3 separate regions of the Homo sapiens genome follow, and all the other regions are linked to region 3. Evidence: fine-mapped expression QTL. A gene starts in region 3. Each other region holds a variant in brackets. All regions are shown on one strand. Distances are from middle to middle. Region 1 overlaps TCF3 (transcription factor 3). Region 2 overlaps TCF3 (transcription factor 3). Region 3 holds the start of TCF3 (transcription factor 3).

Region 1 (5,000 bases), 21 kb before region 3:
GTGAGGCGGGAAGGGGACAGCAGAGCTCACGGGGTGAGGCGGGAAGGGGACAGCAGAGCTCACAGGGGGTGAGGCGGGAAGGGGACAGCAGAGCTCACGGGGGTGAGGCGGGAAGGGGACAGCAGAGCTCACGGGGTGAGGCGGGAAGGGGACAGCAGAGCTCACGGGGTGAGGCGGGAAGGGGACAGCAGAGCTCACGGGGTGAGGCGGGAAGGGGACAGCAGAGCTCACAGTGGCCCTGCTTCCTGCTGGCCAGGCCCCTGCCCTTCCTGAGCCTCAGTTTCCTCTGTTTCAGGCGTTGAGGGGCTGATGCCCTGGGGTGCTGGGGTCAGAGGCATTTGTCTGTCCCAGGGGACAGGCCTGGGGGCCCTGGCGGGGAGCCCCGGGGCCTGTGCACACCGCATCAGGTTCACCGCACAGGCTCCCCCAAAGTGCCCAGCATTCAGCCTTCAGGCCAGGGTTCATTCGCGAATGAGCACGTGACCTGCACCCCACCAATGAGCACTTCCCTGGGGCGCTCAGTGACAAAGGACAGGTGAGGCCTCGGGGCTACGGAGGGGGTCAGCTGGCCAGGGCGAGCCCCCAGCATGGAAGGCCTGGGCTACGGAGGGGAACAGCTGGCCAAGGCGAGCCCCCAGCATGGAGGGCCTGGGCTACGGAGGAGGACAGCCTGCCGGGGCGAGCCCCCAGTGTGGAGGGCCTGGGGCTGATGCGGTGACACCTGGATCCAGCCTTGCCTGAAGCAGGCACCCCGATTACTCAGGACCTGAGCCACTTAAATCCCCTTCTGGCTGACACTGGGCACGGAATGTGACTGGGGCTGCTGTGAGGGGCTGGGACGCGCGATCGAGTAATGTACATTATTCTCAAAGCAGGAAAAAAATTTCCCGATTTTTGAATTTTAAAAGTTCAACGATTTCCCAACTCCTGGAACAAATGCTGCTGTTTTTTGCCTCCCGTTTCCTCATCTTGGTGACCCGGGGGGACATGGGGAAGATGACAGCCACGACCCACCCCACAGGCCACACCCGGCCACAGCAGTCACTCGCCCGGCTCCTCGGGTGAGAAAACTGAGGCCATAGGAGACTGAGGTTATGGCAAAAGCCCCCCGTGCCTCCCCGGGACCCCCGCCTGCCCTCTCCAAGCTGCCTGGCTATGGCCTGGGCCCCACCCGTGGGGGTGGCAGGTGGGACATGGCTGGGCTCTGGGCATTGCTGGCCGGGCCGTGGGAACTGCCCACGTCAGCCCTGCCCACCCTGGGGCCATCGGGGGTATGAGGAAGAGGCTGGGAGGAAGGAACAGCCAGTGAGGAACCAGGCTCCCAGGTGCAGGGGCCACCCCCGGCAGGGGGGCGGGGCCAGGCCTCACCTACCCCGTAAGGGGAACGGGCAGAAATCGCCCGTGGCACGTGGTGGGCCCTCAGACACACCCGCCAGACCTTCACGCTATTCGCTTCCTACTCAGGACACCAACTGACTCTACTGTACTCCAAGTTCGAGGCCGGGCAAAGCGAGACAGGACCGTCCCTGCCCCGCTGTGGGGCCCAAACAGGCGCTGCCCCTCAGGGTCCAGGGAAAAGGCTGGGTCGGCCAAAGTCCTCCGGGCCTCAGTTTCCCCGCAAGCCAACAATGCCGAGGGGTACACGGTGAGCACCTGGGCCCCGCAGCAGGTCCAGTGCCCCACAGCTCCCGGCTTCTAAGCAGCGCACACCCCCACTGCACCACGAAAAGCCAGCAGAAACACTGCCTCAAACCGTCGGGTTCCAGAGAAGGGAAGGATCCCGCATCCCAGGATGACTGAGGGATGAAACCACAAATTCCACAGCTGAGGCACTGGGGCAGGAGGCTGACCACGACAGCGGGACCCCTGAGGCCCTTACCAGCCCCCCAAGCAGCGGGACCCCCCCAAGACCCCTACCTGAGCCCCCGAACCCTGGGGCACAGGACTTGACACTCCCGCAGGAGGCGGAGCATGTGAAGCTCGGGGCATTTCCTGTGTCACCCGCAGGAGGGACCGCACACGGGACACTGTCCCAGTCGCAGCCCCAGGTGCCTGGAGGAGGGCGTCCCAGTCAGCCCCACCCAGCCGCAGACCCCCGGCCAGGGTGCCCTTCCCAAGCGTCGGTTCGTTCCCCTGCAGCACGGGTGAGCCTGCAGCGGGGCTGGAATATACCCAAGACCAGGCACCAACCCCCACCTGGCATTGGGCAGGGCCTGCAGAGCTGGGTCAGTCCTCACCGCCTCCCTCCAAGAAGGTTCTGGGAGGGTCCCTTTCCCACAGTGGGGAAACTGAGGCTCAGAAGAGGATGGCGCTTGCCCAGGTTCCGTGGTGGGGTGG[G/A]ACCAGACACCAGGCCTGAGTCTTCATTCTTTTTTTTTTTTTAAGATGGAATCTCGCTCCATCACCCAGGCTGGAGGGCAATGGCGTGATCTCGGCTCACTGCAGCCTCCACCTCCTGGGTTCAAGCAATTCTCCTGCCTCAGCCTCCTGAGTAGTTGGCACTATAAGCATCCAACACCATGACCGGCTAATTTTTGTGTTTTTGGTAGAAGCGGGGTTTCACCATGTTGGCCAGGCTGGTCTCAAACTCCTGACCTCAGGTGATCCACCCACCTCGCTCTCCCAAAGTGCTGGTATTACAGGCGTGAGCCACCGAGCCCAACCTGAGTCACGATTCTCTCGGTTAACAGGAGGGCCCCCCAGGGAAAGAGGGCGGGCGGGCGGTCTGCGGAAGGGCATGGGCTCTGACCACCGCACACTCTGGCCGCCCTCCCGAGTCTCCAGAACTCCTACGCCTCCTTCCCAGCGGGCACAGGCCAGCCCGGCTGACCCCTCCCCGGGAAGCAGGAGGAGCCCTGCAGAAATCCCAGGGAGGAAGTGGGGTCTGGAACGGCCTCCCTGCCTCTACGCTCAGGCGGGGAAGCCTAGTTGCAGAGTGCCGTGCCAGGGAGTCCGGGCCACGTCCCCTGCACCTCCCCGCAGCTGCTCCCAGGACGGGCAGAGGCTTCGGCTGTCCACACCCTCTGGGTGAACGCTGGGGACTTGCCTGGCGCTGTGCGTGCACTGACCATGCCAAGGCCCACGTCTGCACATCTGTGCACAGCAGAGGGACCGCACCAGGCCAGGCACTCACCTCCGAGTCCCGGTCCCAGGAATGTGGATGAAGAGAGGCTGCTGTGCGACTCAGTGAAGTGGGTGCCCTCGCTGAAGGTCTAGGGGAGATGGGGTGGGGATGAGAGGTGCTGGGGCTTCACAGGCCCCCCCTCCACCCCGCATTACAGCTGGAGAGGCAGGACTCAAACCCATGTCCCCCAGTCCAAACCCCTGGAAGGCTGGCCCCTTCTCTCAGCCTCAGTTTCCCCACACCCCTCGCCCCCAACTCTGGGGACAGGAAACTCAGGGTCTCAGGCCTCACGGGGACTCCTACCCGGCTGGGGTCAAAGGAGGAGCTGCTCTGGTCGCCGCTGCCCCAGGAGCCTGAGCTGGGCCGGTCCTCAAGACCTGCAGGCAGGACAGAGAGAGTTATGGGTCACCCTCACGCCTGCCCAGCTCTAAAAGCTTCGGTTCATCATCTCAGGGGCAAACCTCAGTGGACCCGGGGGGCTTGTGGAACCCTTCCTAACCCAGCCTCACCCAGCCCGACTCATGAGGACACCAGTCAGCAGCTAACACCCAGACACCCTGGGACTCGGAGCACTTACAGGTCCATAAACTTAAATTAACTCTTCCGTCGGCTCTCTGCTGGCCAACTCCTACCCACCCACTAAAGCCCCAGCTTTCATACCCTCCTTGGGCAAAGACCTCACTCTCACGCCGAGCCTCCTCCCCATCAGCCCCAAGTCCCTCCCTCTGGCCCAGCCCTGACTATGTGGACTGGGGTCTCTGTGTCAGATGCAGACTCTTCTGACCCTGTGAGAAAGGCTCATGACAGCATGAGGGTGTGGAAGCTAACCCATGAGCTCTGGGGAGGCCCAGGGTCTCCCTGTCCCCACCTGCCAGTGTGGGAAGTGGGGCCGCCCTTTGCTGAAGCAGCAGCAGAGGCTCACCCATCGGGCAGGAGGCTGGCAGCCCGTGAGGGTGGAGCCGAATCTCATCACCCAGGAACAAGCCCAGTGTGGAGACCAGAAGCCTGCGTGGGGCAGGAGTTCCCGGCGCAGCAAGGGACGGGACGAGGACCTTGGTCCCGGGGCGGGGCGGGCGGGGCCCTTATCTCTCAGAACACTCACAGGCAACGCCCAGGACTCCAGAATCTTCTGCCCTGGGCAGGGAGGGCCTGCTTGGATCCTTCCCCCTTCCATCGGGGGCCACAGAGCACACCCGTGGAGAAGCAGGAGCGGGCCCTGGGCCTCCTCAGCTTGGCCACGGAGTTGCTGCCCTGCCTTGGTTTCCCTCTCTATAAATGATTTACAAACAGGCCCTACTTTTGCAGGGCTGGGGGTGTCCATGTCCAACTCCCAAGTCCAGAGGCTTCCCGAGAGCCAGGCCTGGGGGACCCAGCCCAGTGCTGATGTCTGTGACCGGCACCACCTCAGGCTGTTCTGCAGGCTCCCCCGCCCCGCCCCCTGCCCTCCCTGCTCATCCACACCAGAAACTTCTTTCAAATCGCATCCTTCTATTTCGGTGCCTTTGTGTTAATCATTCCCCCCGGGGAGTATTGGTGTTTAATTGCTGTCTGATTTGCATAATTATGCATATTAATCTCCAAGTCTAATGAATATTCATGCGCCTCATTTAGATTTTGTTTTCTAATCAAAAATTTCCAATGTGATTATGAGTGGGGGGCTGGGATGCTGCCTTGGCTGGGTTGGGGGCCAGGCAGGGGGCTCCTGTGGTCTCCAGGAATCCACACGGCATTCGCTGCCAGGTCTGGGCCATCTGCACCCCAAGATCCTGGTCCTGCACGTGGGCCCTGGTGAACAGGGCAGCTGCTGAGGCCAGGGTGGGCTGGCTGTGTAGGGGTGGGCACAGCGCCGGCACCCTCTGGGTCTCAGTTTGCCTCTATA
Region 2 (5,000 bases), 33 kb before region 3:
AAAGGCATCTCACAGACAAGGAAACCACATGGCTAGAAACACGTGGAAGTCCGCTTCAGCACATCAAGAGATTAAGGAAATGCAAATTAGGGTGGCTTTGCGCTACCCTTTCATACCCAGTCAGCTAGCAAAGTTGAGGGACCTGAACAGTCAAAATCTTGCCTGTGGGAGGGCAACTTGGCTGCTTTGGAAAATAATTCATCAGCCTTTCCTCTGAATTGACAACAGGTGTATCACACCCTTGATCAGCAGGTTGGCAGGAAAGCGTGATGTTGGAATGACCTACAGCCCCACGCCCGGGCCAGGGCCAACGGCACACTCACAATGGGACCCCAGCCGCTCACACCACACATGTACCCCACACACAACATAAGCCAGCAAACCAGCGTGTAAAGAACACGCTAGTGGGACGCCGTGTTCATGAAGCTCAAGAACAATAATTGCAAAACATGTGGCTTAAGGGTACACAGTGCCCCAAATGAATGCGGCCACTCTGCATTCAGCAGGGCCTGGGCCACCCCCAAAACCCGGGCTTGGGGAGTCCAGGAATCAGTCAGGGCTCACATGGAGCAAACCAGCTGCCATCCCCTGAGACCCCCGTACCCTGAGGGGGAGCCTCAGAAATGCACCCGCTCCCCACAGTGAACTCTGCTCCAATCGGCCAACGCCAGCCACCAGGACCAGCCCAGGCCTCAGCACACGAAGTGAAGGACAGGAAGGAAACAGAGGGGAGCCTATGGGTGAAAGACTAAGCTTGGGGCTGCCCCTGGAAACTGCTGACCTGTGGGTCCGGACCCTTCTCTGGGGTGGGGCCGTCCTGGGCACTGCAGGGTGCTGAGCAGCATCCCTGGCCCCCACCCACTCCATGCCAGGAGCTCCCCTCAGCCCTGACAACTGTAGATGTCCCCAGACATCACCCAGTGTCCCCTGGGGGCAGAGCCGCTGCGGTGAGATGCCCTGGCCTAGGAGTGATAGAATCAAGGTACTTGGAAAGTCTGCCTGGAAAGCAGGCAGGATTCCTGGGCTGGTGGAAGGCACAGGGCCAGGACAGCGCCCACAATGACCCCACCTTCTCCTGGGCCTCTCATGGGTGTCTGAGACACTCAACAATCCCCAGGCCCAGGTCCAGATTTGTCCCCAACCTTTTCCTTTGTCCCCTTCCTTACGGAGTTCCCAGCCCCAGTGTCACCCACAGCTCGGGCCAGAAATCCCAGAGCCACCCTGCCTTCTCTCACCCTCAAGTCCTGTCCATCACAAATCCTGTGGGCCCCGCCTTCAGGAGATGCAGGGCCCACCCACTGCTCACCCCTCCAAGGCCCCTGGACCAGCCCTGTGGCCTCTGCCTTGGTCTCCCGGTGCCACTCATAGTCTGTCCTCCAAGCAGCCACCAGAGGGTATCTGTGAGCACCTGGGTCAGGTCCCATCCCTCCTCAGCCCTCCACGGCTGCCACCTTTCTCATGGCCAAATCCCAAGTCCTCCCCGCAGCCCACAAGGCCCCGCATGACCTGCCCTGCCCCGCCCTCCCCCCTTCCCTCTCTCCCTCTCCTCACTCTGCTCCAACCCCACGGGTCTCCTGGCTGTTCCTCCCAGGTGCAGTCCAGCCCCAGGGCCTTTGCCTGGGCTGCGCCCTCTGCCTGAAACCCTCCTCCTCCAGGTACTTGCCTACTCTTGCCTCCTCCCAGATGCTGCCCAAACACCACCTTGTGGCCTCATGGGCCACCATCTTCAAAGCCATACAAAACCCCCAACCCACCGCAGCCACTTCGTTCCTTCTCCCTGGCACCTGTACTGTGCAGCGAGCTCCTGGTCTGTCTCCCCTGAGGCAGAGGCATCCTGCTGCACCCCTCGCCCCTTCCCCAGTGCTGAGCGCTGCCAGGCACACAGCGTCTGGGAGCAGGCGAATGAAGAGGCAGCCCAGAGCTGTCCACCTCACACGCCCAGGGCCAACGCCGGCCCCGCCGGTCTTACCCACCCTCCTGAAGTTGCTGACTGGGGCGCCCATGTCACCAGGTGCCCCCACGGTGACACCTGCCCTGGGCTCCCACCCTGACCCCCACCACTAGAGTGCCTCAGTTTCCCCAACTGGAACCAGGAGTCGGACAGTCCCAAGCTCAAGGGCTTACCACTGTAGGAGTCGGGAGGCCGAGACAGGTCAGGGAGGGTGCCTGGCTGGCTGGGGAGGGCCGCGTGGTTGTGCATGAGGCTGGTGCTGCCTGCGAGGCCGTCCTCGGGGTGGCTGCCTCCAACCTGCAGGCGTGGGGAGACGGGTGCATCAGGGGGAGCCGGGTCCCCGCCCACTGCCCAGCTCCACCCTCGCCCAGCGCTCACCAGGCCTGCGTGCCGCCCGCCCAG[T/C]GACATGGGGCCGGTGAAACCTGAGGCCAGCGCCCCGTGGCCAGGCAGCAGCGTGTGCATGTCGCCGGCTGTGCCCACGGCGTGGCTGCGGAGCACGTGGATGGCCTCGTCCAGGTGGTCTTCTATCTTACTCTGCTGCAGGGTGGGGGGATGGGTGGTGAGGGGCCCAAGCCGAGGGACCCCACAGGCCTCCATTCATGTCCCTTCCGCATGCAAGTGGCCGGTGGTCCCATCTTCCCCTTCCCCAGGAAGCTGCATATGCCAGGCATCTGGCGCCCGGGAGCACACACAAAATGTGTGTGCCTTGGCGGCCACGAGGCCTCAATAACAGCTTGGGGCTTATTTACAAGAAACTAACAAAAAGGTTTCTCCTTCTCAAGGAGCGTCTGTCCTGCAAATTCTGTCGGGGAAGGGTGGGGTGGGGCGGGGCAGGCACTCACCAGGCCGTGGAGACCCCCGTCGTAGCTGGGCGATAAGGCACCGGGGGCTCCTGCTCGAGGCCACTGTGACGTTCCTGGAAGGGAGTGGGGACGTGAATGGGGTGCGAGGGGCGGGGTGTGAGCATGGCCTGATGCCCATGGGGAGGGATTCATGAACCACCCCGCCTGTCCAGCCTCCGGTGATGCCCAAGATGGCCATTCCGGGGCACCCCACACTGATGCAAAGCTGCTCGGCCCCGCCAGGCAGGGATGCTGGGTGCCCAGTGGGTACTGCCATTCCTATCTCTGAGCCTCAGTTTCCCCATCTACAAAATCCAACTCCCCACTCAGAGGATAAAGTGGCTCGGCAGCACACAGTAGGGGGCTCCTCCCCATGCTGCCCCACCCTGGCTGACCCACGCTGGGCTCCAGCAGCAGGCAAGAAAGTGGCAAGCTCCAGGTGGGACCAGACAGGCCGAGGTGAAGTGAGGGTTCCTGGCGCTTCCCATGGGGGCAGAGATGAGGACTCACGGGTGTTTTTAAACACCCAGACCTTCTGGAAACCTCCAGTTCTCACTCCCCCTCCTCCTGTACCTGCCCCCGACCCCCTGCGGATAAGCAAGCACGTCCTCACAGGGATAGGAGGGTCTGCCCTCCCATGCCGGAGCACCGCACAGGGTAAACAGTCAGTACCTAATAAATACCCAGTGGGTGAGCAAATGGCAACACGCACACATTCTAGAGTCCAGGCCACAGCCCTGGCGATGCTGGCCCCATCGGACCTGGGAGCTGCTAGGCACGCCAATGTCCCCTCATGTTCACGCAGTGTGAACTGCCAGGTCCTGCCTCCTGGCTTTGCCTGTGCTGTGACCTAACCTGGACGCCACCTCCCAGCCCTCCCTCACTGCCTGGTTATGTGCTATAGCCTTGGAGGGCTGGCTTGGAGGCTGCCTCCACTAGGCAGCTTTCCTGGATTGCCCAGTGGAACACAAGCCCATGGGGGACTCCCTTCCACCGTCGGTTCCTGACCAGCGATGCCACGGGCCCTTGGGGGCCATCTGCTCCCTCCCCGCTGCCTGCCTATCCCAGCAAGGTGCAGACACCAGAACCAGCCTCCCCTCCCCCGCAAAGCCTTCACAGACCTCAGCCTCCCCTCCCCCCAAACCCTCACAGACCTCAGCCTCCCCTCCCCCCAAAACCCTCACAGACCTGCCAGGCCCTGGGGGGAGCCCACGGGGGTAGAAGGGCTGGACGAGAAGTTATTGCTTGAGTGATCCGGGGAGTAGATCTGCGAGGAGGACCAGGAGAGATGGGCGGTCAGGGGCCGGCCTCTCAGGTCACTTGCCTGGCCACCCCCCATGCCCCACGCCTCACCGAGGCCAGTGCTTTGCCGAGGGCATCCCCGGAGCTGCCAGCTGTGGTCCCTCGGGAGCCTGTGGGTGAAGAGAGGTGAGGCCCACGCAGCCCGGCCTGGGTGCTGCCGCCGACGGCAAGCTCTCCTGCGTTCTGCCGTCCTGCACAGACACTGCTGCGCCAGGGAGAGCAGCCTGACTCGGGTCCGGTTTCTGTCTGACCCCCTGAAACCAGCCTCTGCAGGGGTTGAGGCACTGGGGACAGGCCACTGGCAGGGGACCCTGGGTGGGTGAGTCCCCTTCTGGGCCTGGGTGGGTGAGTCCCCCTCTGGGCCTGGATGGGTGAGTCCCTCTCTGGGCCTGGGTAACTGAGTCCCTCTCTGGGCCTGGGTGGGTGAGTCCCTCTCTGGGCCTGGGTGGGTGAGTCCCTCTCTGACCCTGGGTGGGTGAGTCCCTCTCTGACCCTGGGTGGGTGAGTCCCTCTCTGAGCCTCTTTCCCAGCTGTAAGGCGGGAAAGCCGCTCCTCAAAGATCTGTTTCCAGACATCCCAAGCCCAACGCACGTGGCAGGCCCTGCAGACAGCGGACAATGAGAACTGACAACAACCCGCTCTCAGGGCCAGCAGACGCGCCTGCGCCTCCCGTGGAGTCCTCGCCACCCCCCACCCAGACCCTGCCTGGAGCCCAGTGTCCCCTCGGAGAGGCCGCATCCCAGGGAGGGGCCATACCCAGGAGGCTGTCGGCCCCGCTGACAGGCGGCGTGTGGCTGGAGACGCCGCCGTACGTGGCTCCGGGGGCTGAGGAGAAGGAGGATGCAGATGGGAGCCCACCGTTCACCTCTGCTCCATGCAGCTGGTAGCCCTGGGGGGTCAGGCAG
Region 3 (6,738 bases):
AAGTAGCTGGGACCACAGGCATCTACCACCACTCCTAGCTAATTTTTTGAGTTTTGTTTTGTCTTTTTGAGAAATGGGGCCTCACTATGTTTCCTGGGCTGGACTTGGAACTCCTGGCCTCAAGCGATCCTCCCGCCTCAGCCTCCCAAAGTGCTGGAATGACAGGTGGGAACCACTGTGCCCAGCCCCCCTCCCATTTACTGAAACAGGGTCTCCAGGGTCTCACTGTCAACCAGACTGGAGTGCAGTGATCTTTTACTTACTTTTAATTTTTGTATCTACAATGAGGTAAGCGACCCTGATCAGGCCCATTTTACAGATCAGAAGATCAAGGCCGCATTTTGCTTACCCAGCCAAGCTGGGGGCCCAGGACCATGCCCCTGAGGACTCAGTTTCCCCATCTGTAAAGCAGTAGGCTGTAGAATGCTGCGTCCGGGCAAAAGCCCCATAGCACACGTGCTGCCGTGCGCTGTCAGCCTCCTGCCAGAGAGCGGCCCACTCCCCCAGCCCCACCGGGGCCTCCCATCCAAACAGCTGAGGCTCCATCGCTGAAGTATTCAGCAAACACTCTCCCCTGAAAACCTTCCCGTGAACTGTGGAGGCAAAGGGGTGTCGGGGGCTGGGCGGGGGTCCTGGCTCACCATGCTGAAGTCCAGGAGGTCACTGAGCTCCTTGTCTGTGCCCACAGGCGCCATCCTCTGCGGCTGGTTCATTCTCCTGGGGCCAGGGCGGGCACCTCAGGCCTGGAAACCCTGCTTGGTGGATGTGGGGACAGATGGACAGGGAGAAACAGGGAGGGGAGAAGAGTTGTGAGTGGTCAAAGCACAGAGTGCTAAAAGCCACCTAAAAAACCCTCAACCGCCCTGGGGTCTGAGTTCCAGCAGAGCCCTGGGGGCACGGGGAGCCCTGGGAGCAGGCGCAGGGAAGCTGGAATTCCAGAGTCTAGGTCCCTGCAGAGTCCTCCCCAGAGACCACAGGGAGTCTGAAAAATGGGGGGAGGGTGTGCAAATATAAACTCCCTAACTCCCCCAGGGAACACCAGGGCATCAAGTTGCCAAGTTTAAACTGCACGCAGGGCAGCCAGAACCTCTCCTTTCTCCAACTCTCTCATTTCCAACCAACCCCGGGCTTCCTCTGAGGCCCCCTACCCCCGGGAAAGGGAGGAACAGCCCGATCCTACCCCGCCCCGAGGGAAATTTGGTGATTCCCCCCTCCCCCAGCAGATGGCACAGCCCGTTGAAGACCAGGTCGCCCCCAAATTCAACATGAAGGAAATCCACAAGTCAGAAAACCACGAAACTCTTTTACAAGCTTCAAGACTTAAAGTGCCGGGGGTGGGGGGGACGCGCATCCTATGCAGGGACCAGCAAAGCTTTCCTCCACCCTCAATCTCCCTCCCCCCAAGAAAACCCCAACAGTATTCAGGAAAGAAAAAAAAAACAGCCCTAGATTGCTTTACTGTCGCGATGTATCCGGGAATTATTTTTAAGCAAAACTTTGACAACATCCCTTGCCTGCCCTCCATGAGCGGGGAGAGCGTCTCAAGACCAGGGTGCTCCCGCGTGGTCCCAGGGGGCTCCATTCTAAGATGGGGGATGGGGGATCCACCTGCCAAGACCCATTCCACCCCCAGAAAAAGGTACAGAGAAAAATTTCCATTCCAAAGAAATGCACTCCAGGCCCCTCCAGTCTCGACTTTCCCCAGGGGTCCCCAGGTGGGGACGGGGGCAGCCCGGGAGACACCTCCGAGGCTGGGGGTGGGGAGGAGCCTCCGAGGTCGAGGGAGACCCAACTTCAGAAGCAGAGAAATCCCCTCTTTGTCTGCCAACTGGAGGCCGGGTGTGAAGCGGGCGCCCCAGCGCAGCCCCTCCCCCGCTCAGTTTTTTTCTTTTTTGGAGGGCGTGTGAAACTGACTTTTTTTGAGGACTACGAAACCGCACTTTTTTGTGGGGTAGCTGAAACCGATTTTAAGACAGACTTAGTTGGGGGGGTGGCGAGCTAAAACGGGCATTCTACGGGAGCTGGAAGACTTCTGGGGCGTCCCAAGGACTTTGAGAGACTTGGAGAATGTTTGAAGCCACTTTGCACGGCGCCGAAGGCGGGGGGCGCGCTGGAACGCCTTTTTCCCGGGGGGAGGCGGCCCGGGAAGCCGGACCCCCCTCCCCCCGCAGCCGGTGCAGGCGGTGCGGCCCGGGAGCCTTTGAAGCTCGCAGCGCGGCCGCCGCCTCGCCCCGCATTAACGCGGAGCAGATGTTACCCGCGCGCCCCCCCCCGGCCCGCCCGGCCCCGACCAGCGCCTGCAGCGCGCGGCACCTTCCCCGCGCAGACAAAAGGACGTCCCTCCCGCGCGCTCCCCACCCCAAACTCCGGCGCCCGGGCCGGGCCCCCCTCTACCCGAGAAAGGGGGCGCCCCGGGGTCCCCGTGCGCCCGGGCTGGGGGGGACGGTCCTCGCGCCTAAGTTGCACAGCCCGTCCGGCGCCCCCCGCGCCCCCGCCCGGGGCTGCTTAAAGTTTCCCGAAGTGCCCGGCCCGACGGGGGCGACGCGGGCCTGGCGAGCTCCGGGCTCCTCCACGTCGCCGCCCCCCCGGCGCCGCGCGAAGTTGGAGAACAATGACTCCCGGGCCGCGGGGCGCCCCCCGACACCGCCCCCGCCCCAACTTCCTCCGCGCCCCCCCCCAACAAGCGCGCGCGGGGCGGGCCGGGGTTCCCTGGGCACAAAGCACGGGGGTACCGGGCGCGCCCCCCGCCCCCCGCCGGGCTCACCTGCTGGGCGCGGCCGGGCACGCGGCGCGTGGGGGGGGGCGGCGGCATGAAGCGGGGGGGCCCCCCCCCGGACAAAGGTGCGTCGCGGCCGGGCCCCCGAGGGTCGCGCGTGGGCGGCGGCGGCGGCGCGCGTGGCCCGGGCCCCTCCCACCCCCGCGTGGCCCGTCCCGCGGGGCCCGTGCGCGCGGCCGGCCGGGGCGCCCCTGGGGCAGCGGCGTGCGCGGTGCCCGCGGTGCCCGCCGCCGCGTCGGCTCCGGCCCGCTACGCCCGCAGCCGCCGCCGCTGCCTCATCTTCCTGCGGCGGGAGACATGTTCCGCCCCCCGCCCGCGCCGCCCCGCCCCGCCCCGTGCAGGCCCCGCCCCTGCCCCGCCCCCGAGTGCCCCGCCCGGCGGCCCACGCGGATCCCTCCGCCACCTCCGGGCGGCTCGGGCCCGAACGCCCTAGCTCGGCCTCTCGAGCACCCTCGTGAGGACCCCGAATCCCGTGAGGTCCAGAGCCTGGGAGCGGGGACGCGCAGAGGAGGCGGTCGGGCCACGGCGCGGGGAGAAATCACGGACTATCCCCGTCCGCGGAAGCACACACGAGCTGTGCGCTTAGTCCATGACGCAAGCGAGTAAGGCCCGTGAGATTGAAAGCTAAGGCAGAGCAGTCTGGTCAATCGGAAGCCGCGAAAGTCTGATGGGCGGGGATCCTAGCCATTCGTGGTGAGGCCCCGCCTCCTTTCTTCTCGGCCCCGCCCCTCAGCAGAGGCGGGACTCTGCGAGCGAGAGGCCGCGAGAGGCGGCCGGGGTGGGTCCTGGAGTTTTGTTCTCAGGTTGGCGTGGCCGCCCGCGCGGAGCCTTCTGCTTGGTTATATTTGCGTTCCTCGGGCCGGCCCCGCGTGCTGAGTGGTGCGAGCGGGTATCACGGCCCCGAGGGGGCTACGTCAGACCCATTTTCCCGGCGGGAAAACCGACTCTGGCTCCGGCTCTGGGTCAGAGAGCCCCGCGGGGAGTCTCAGCGGTGCCTTTGCCGACTTGAGTCTCCGTCTCGGCATCTGTGAATTTGGACCTGACTTTGGACAGAACTCAGGCCAGATCTGGCTTCCTGATTCTTAGTAGTCCGTGTCTACATTTTAGTAAAAAGTGACCCCGCCTAGGATCGGGCGCCGTGGCTCCTGCCTGTGATCCCAGCGCTTTGAAGGAGGCCGAGGCGGGAAGATCGCTTGAGGCCAGGAGTTCGAGAACAGCCTGAACAACATAGTGAAACCCCCCCCACCCACACCCGTCTCTAAAAATATTTAAAATAATTTAAAATAATAATTTAAAAAGTTGACCGGACGCGGTGGCCCACGCTTGTATTCCCAGCACTTTGGGAGGCCAAGGCGGGCAGATCACCTGAAGTCAGGAGTTCGAGACCTCTCTGGCCAACACGGTGAAACCCCATCTCTACTAAAAATACAAAAATTAGCCGGGCATGGTGGCGGGCACCTGTAGTCCTAGCTACTCGGGAGGCTGAGGCAGCAGAATCGCTTTCACCCGAAAGGCGGAGGTTGCAATGAGCCGAGAGCACGCCATTGTACTCCAGCCTGGGCAACAAGGACGAAACTCCGTCTCAAAATAAATAAATAAATAAGTAAAATAAAATAAAAATACAAAAATTAGCTGGGCGTGGTGGCATACACCTATAATCTCAGCTACTCGGGAAGCTGAGGCAGGAGAATCGCTTAAACCCAGGAGGCAGAGGTTGCAGTGAGCAGAGATCGCAGCACTGCACTCCAGGCTGGGCGACAGAACGAGGCTCCGTCTCAAAAAAAAAAGTAAAATAACTAAACAAATAAATGAAAATAACACAATCTCCCAGGGCTCCCTGGGGCCCCAAAGGGAAATTTACACTCCACTCCCAGCCTGGGAAGATGCCACCATCTCGCTGGCCCGCTTGGCTCCAGCCATCCTGCCCTCTGGATGGTCCAGAACTTGCTAAGCTCATCCCCACCCCGGGCCTCTACGTTTGCTTTGTCCTCTACCTGGGAGGCTTTTCCCACCCCTATCTGGAGCCCCTGAGTCATCACAGTTCAATGCTGCACCTATGCCAGGCCGGCGGGGAGGCGGGGCCACAGGGGCCCCCCACCAAAGCCACAAGCCCCTCCTGCTATACACCCAAACTGGGCTGTCCACAGTCCGACCCTCCGTGCCCAGAGAGTTCCACGTGCCGCAGGTCTGGGGAGAGGGCTGTGGGTCCCAGGGTCTGTGCTGCAAATCCCTCATCCCTCTCCACCTCACTGTGACCTCAGGCAAGTTCGTGCTACTCTCCGGGCCTCGGTTTCTCCATCTGGACAGTGGAAGGGGGGAGTCTGGCACACAGTAGGTGCTCACAGCTGATGCCTGCCTTCCTCAGCCGCCCCCCACCCCCGCAGAGGCCTCTCCGGAGCCAGGGTCTCCAAGCAGCTCCAATCCCACCCCAGCCTCCTCAGCCCCCGGCCCTTCCTTGTGGCCCAGCCCTGACCCCATGGGTCTGAGGGTGTCTGTGGCCGGGTCTGGCTCTCCCCATTCCAGTGTAGGGAGCTCACTGTGGGCCACTCCCCACCCACACTCAGGGTCCAAGCCATAGTGTGGCAGCCGGAGTCCTCCCGAGGAGCCCTTCAGTTTCACCCACGGAAGGGAAGCAACCATCCAATCACGGACTTCTTCTTCTTCTTCTTCTTCTTCTTCTTCTTCTTATTATTATTATTATTATTTTGAGAAAGAGTCTCGCTCTGTTGCCCAGGCTGGAGTGCAGTGGTGAGATCACAGCTCACTGCAGCCTTGACCTCCTGGGCTCAAACGATCCTCCCGCCTCAGTTTCCCGAGTAGCTGGGACCACAGGCACGCGCCACCACACCCAGCTAATTTTGTATTTTTTGTAGAGACGGGGTTCTCCCTATGTTGCCCAGGCTGGTCTTGAACTCCTAGGCACAAGTGATCCTCCCGCCTTGGCTTCCCAGAGTGCTGGGATTACAGGCGTGTGCCACTGCGCCGTACAAGACTATTCAATTATCGGGCACTGACAGCGAACGGGGCCTTGTGCCGCGCATCGTAGCACTGTGGACAGTGATGGACTCAGTCCCTGCTGTCCCGGCAGGATGACCCATGAGGGACCCCTTGTCTAGTCCTGAATGTGGCTCTTTCCTGTGAGGTCCTCCTGCCTGTGTGGTTCCACGTATCGTACAGATGAGGAAACTGAGACTAGGGGTCTCCTCCCTGGGCCCCAGGGCACCCTGGGGCTCGCGCCTGCCAGGAGGTTCCGCTGGTAACCACAAGCCACCATTGTTTTCCCCAAGGAGGTCAGTCCTGGGGCTGAGTCACTGGGTGGAGCAGCCCGTGGGGGCCCCCCACTTGGCCACCACCTCTGCCCAGCCCCGAGGCCTGGGTGCTCCCTCCAGGGCCCTGGTACGGGGACAGGCAGCAAGCTATCCTCCTGACTGTGGCCTTTGTTTTGCTCTGGGGCCGGGCAGGAGGAGGAGCAGGGCCTCTGCACCTGCCGCCTGTTCCCTCCACACCTACTGTGTGCGCCCCCGCCAACATGAACCACGTATGTCAGAAAAACTGAGGCCAAGGACAACTTCCCACTAGGGAGACACAGAAGCGAGGGGGGCGAGGGGCGGCGATGGCGAGGTTTCCAGAGACAGACGCAGTAGGTGTGCAGGCCACAGCTGTCCGCAGAGAGACTGGGCTTGGATTAGGACTTCGGGGCCACCCTCCAGATTTCTGTTTCCATTTGTCCCTAAAGTGGGCACCTTTGACTTCTCCCAGGGTATGAACACACTCCCCCAACCCCCAGCGCCCTCCAGCAGGGGCGGAGAAGGGAGTGGCGGCCCAGCACTTATCACCCACGTCAGGCCCTGGGACAAACCTCGCTCCGGCGTCCACTGAGCACGGGCAGCTGGGGCGATCGGTGTCGCCTCCCAAAGTGGGGGCTTCCTGCTCGAGCTCAGACCTCCAGTGAGGGGCCTGAT

Evidence for each region. PIP is the estimated chance that this variant, and not a neighbour inherited with it, causes the effect.
Region 1: its variant is fine-mapped to the expression of TCF3 in tibial nerve (GTEx, PIP 0.96). The same link has a PIP of 0.9 or more in subcutaneous fat.
Region 2: its variant is fine-mapped to the expression of TCF3 in whole blood (INTERVAL, PIP above 0.99).

The regions. Positions count from the first base shown.
Region 1 is chr19:1,628,908-1,633,907 of GRCh38, forward strand. TCF3 (transcription factor 3) reads right to left here. Exons shown (of 19, transcript NM_003200.5): 4 at 3,425-3,498; 5 at 3,131-3,209. Among named protein-coding and RNA genes, the nearest start is that of TCF3, 21 kb to the right of the region's middle. The variant G/A (reference allele first, on the strand shown) is at 2,338.
Region 2 is chr19:1,616,987-1,621,986 of GRCh38, forward strand. TCF3 (transcription factor 3) reads right to left here. Exons shown (of 19, transcript NM_003200.5): 11 at 4,852-4,984; 12 at 4,147-4,205; 13 at 3,982-4,060; 14 at 2,794-2,867; 15 at 2,330-2,488; 16 at 2,125-2,248. Among named protein-coding and RNA genes, the nearest start is that of UQCR11, 14 kb to the left of the region's middle. The variant T/C (reference allele first, on the strand shown) is at 2,354.
Region 3 is chr19:1,649,536-1,656,273 of GRCh38, forward strand. It overlaps TCF3 (transcription factor 3), which reads right to left and starts at 3,080. Exons shown (of 19, transcript NM_003200.5): 1 at 2,765-3,080; 2 at 642-752. The coding sequence starts at 713. RefSeq lists enhancers at 1-120, 3,539-3,588, 3,709-3,818 and silencers at 1,999-2,118, 2,099-2,321, 2,129-2,358, 2,449-2,528, 3,059-3,188 and 1 more.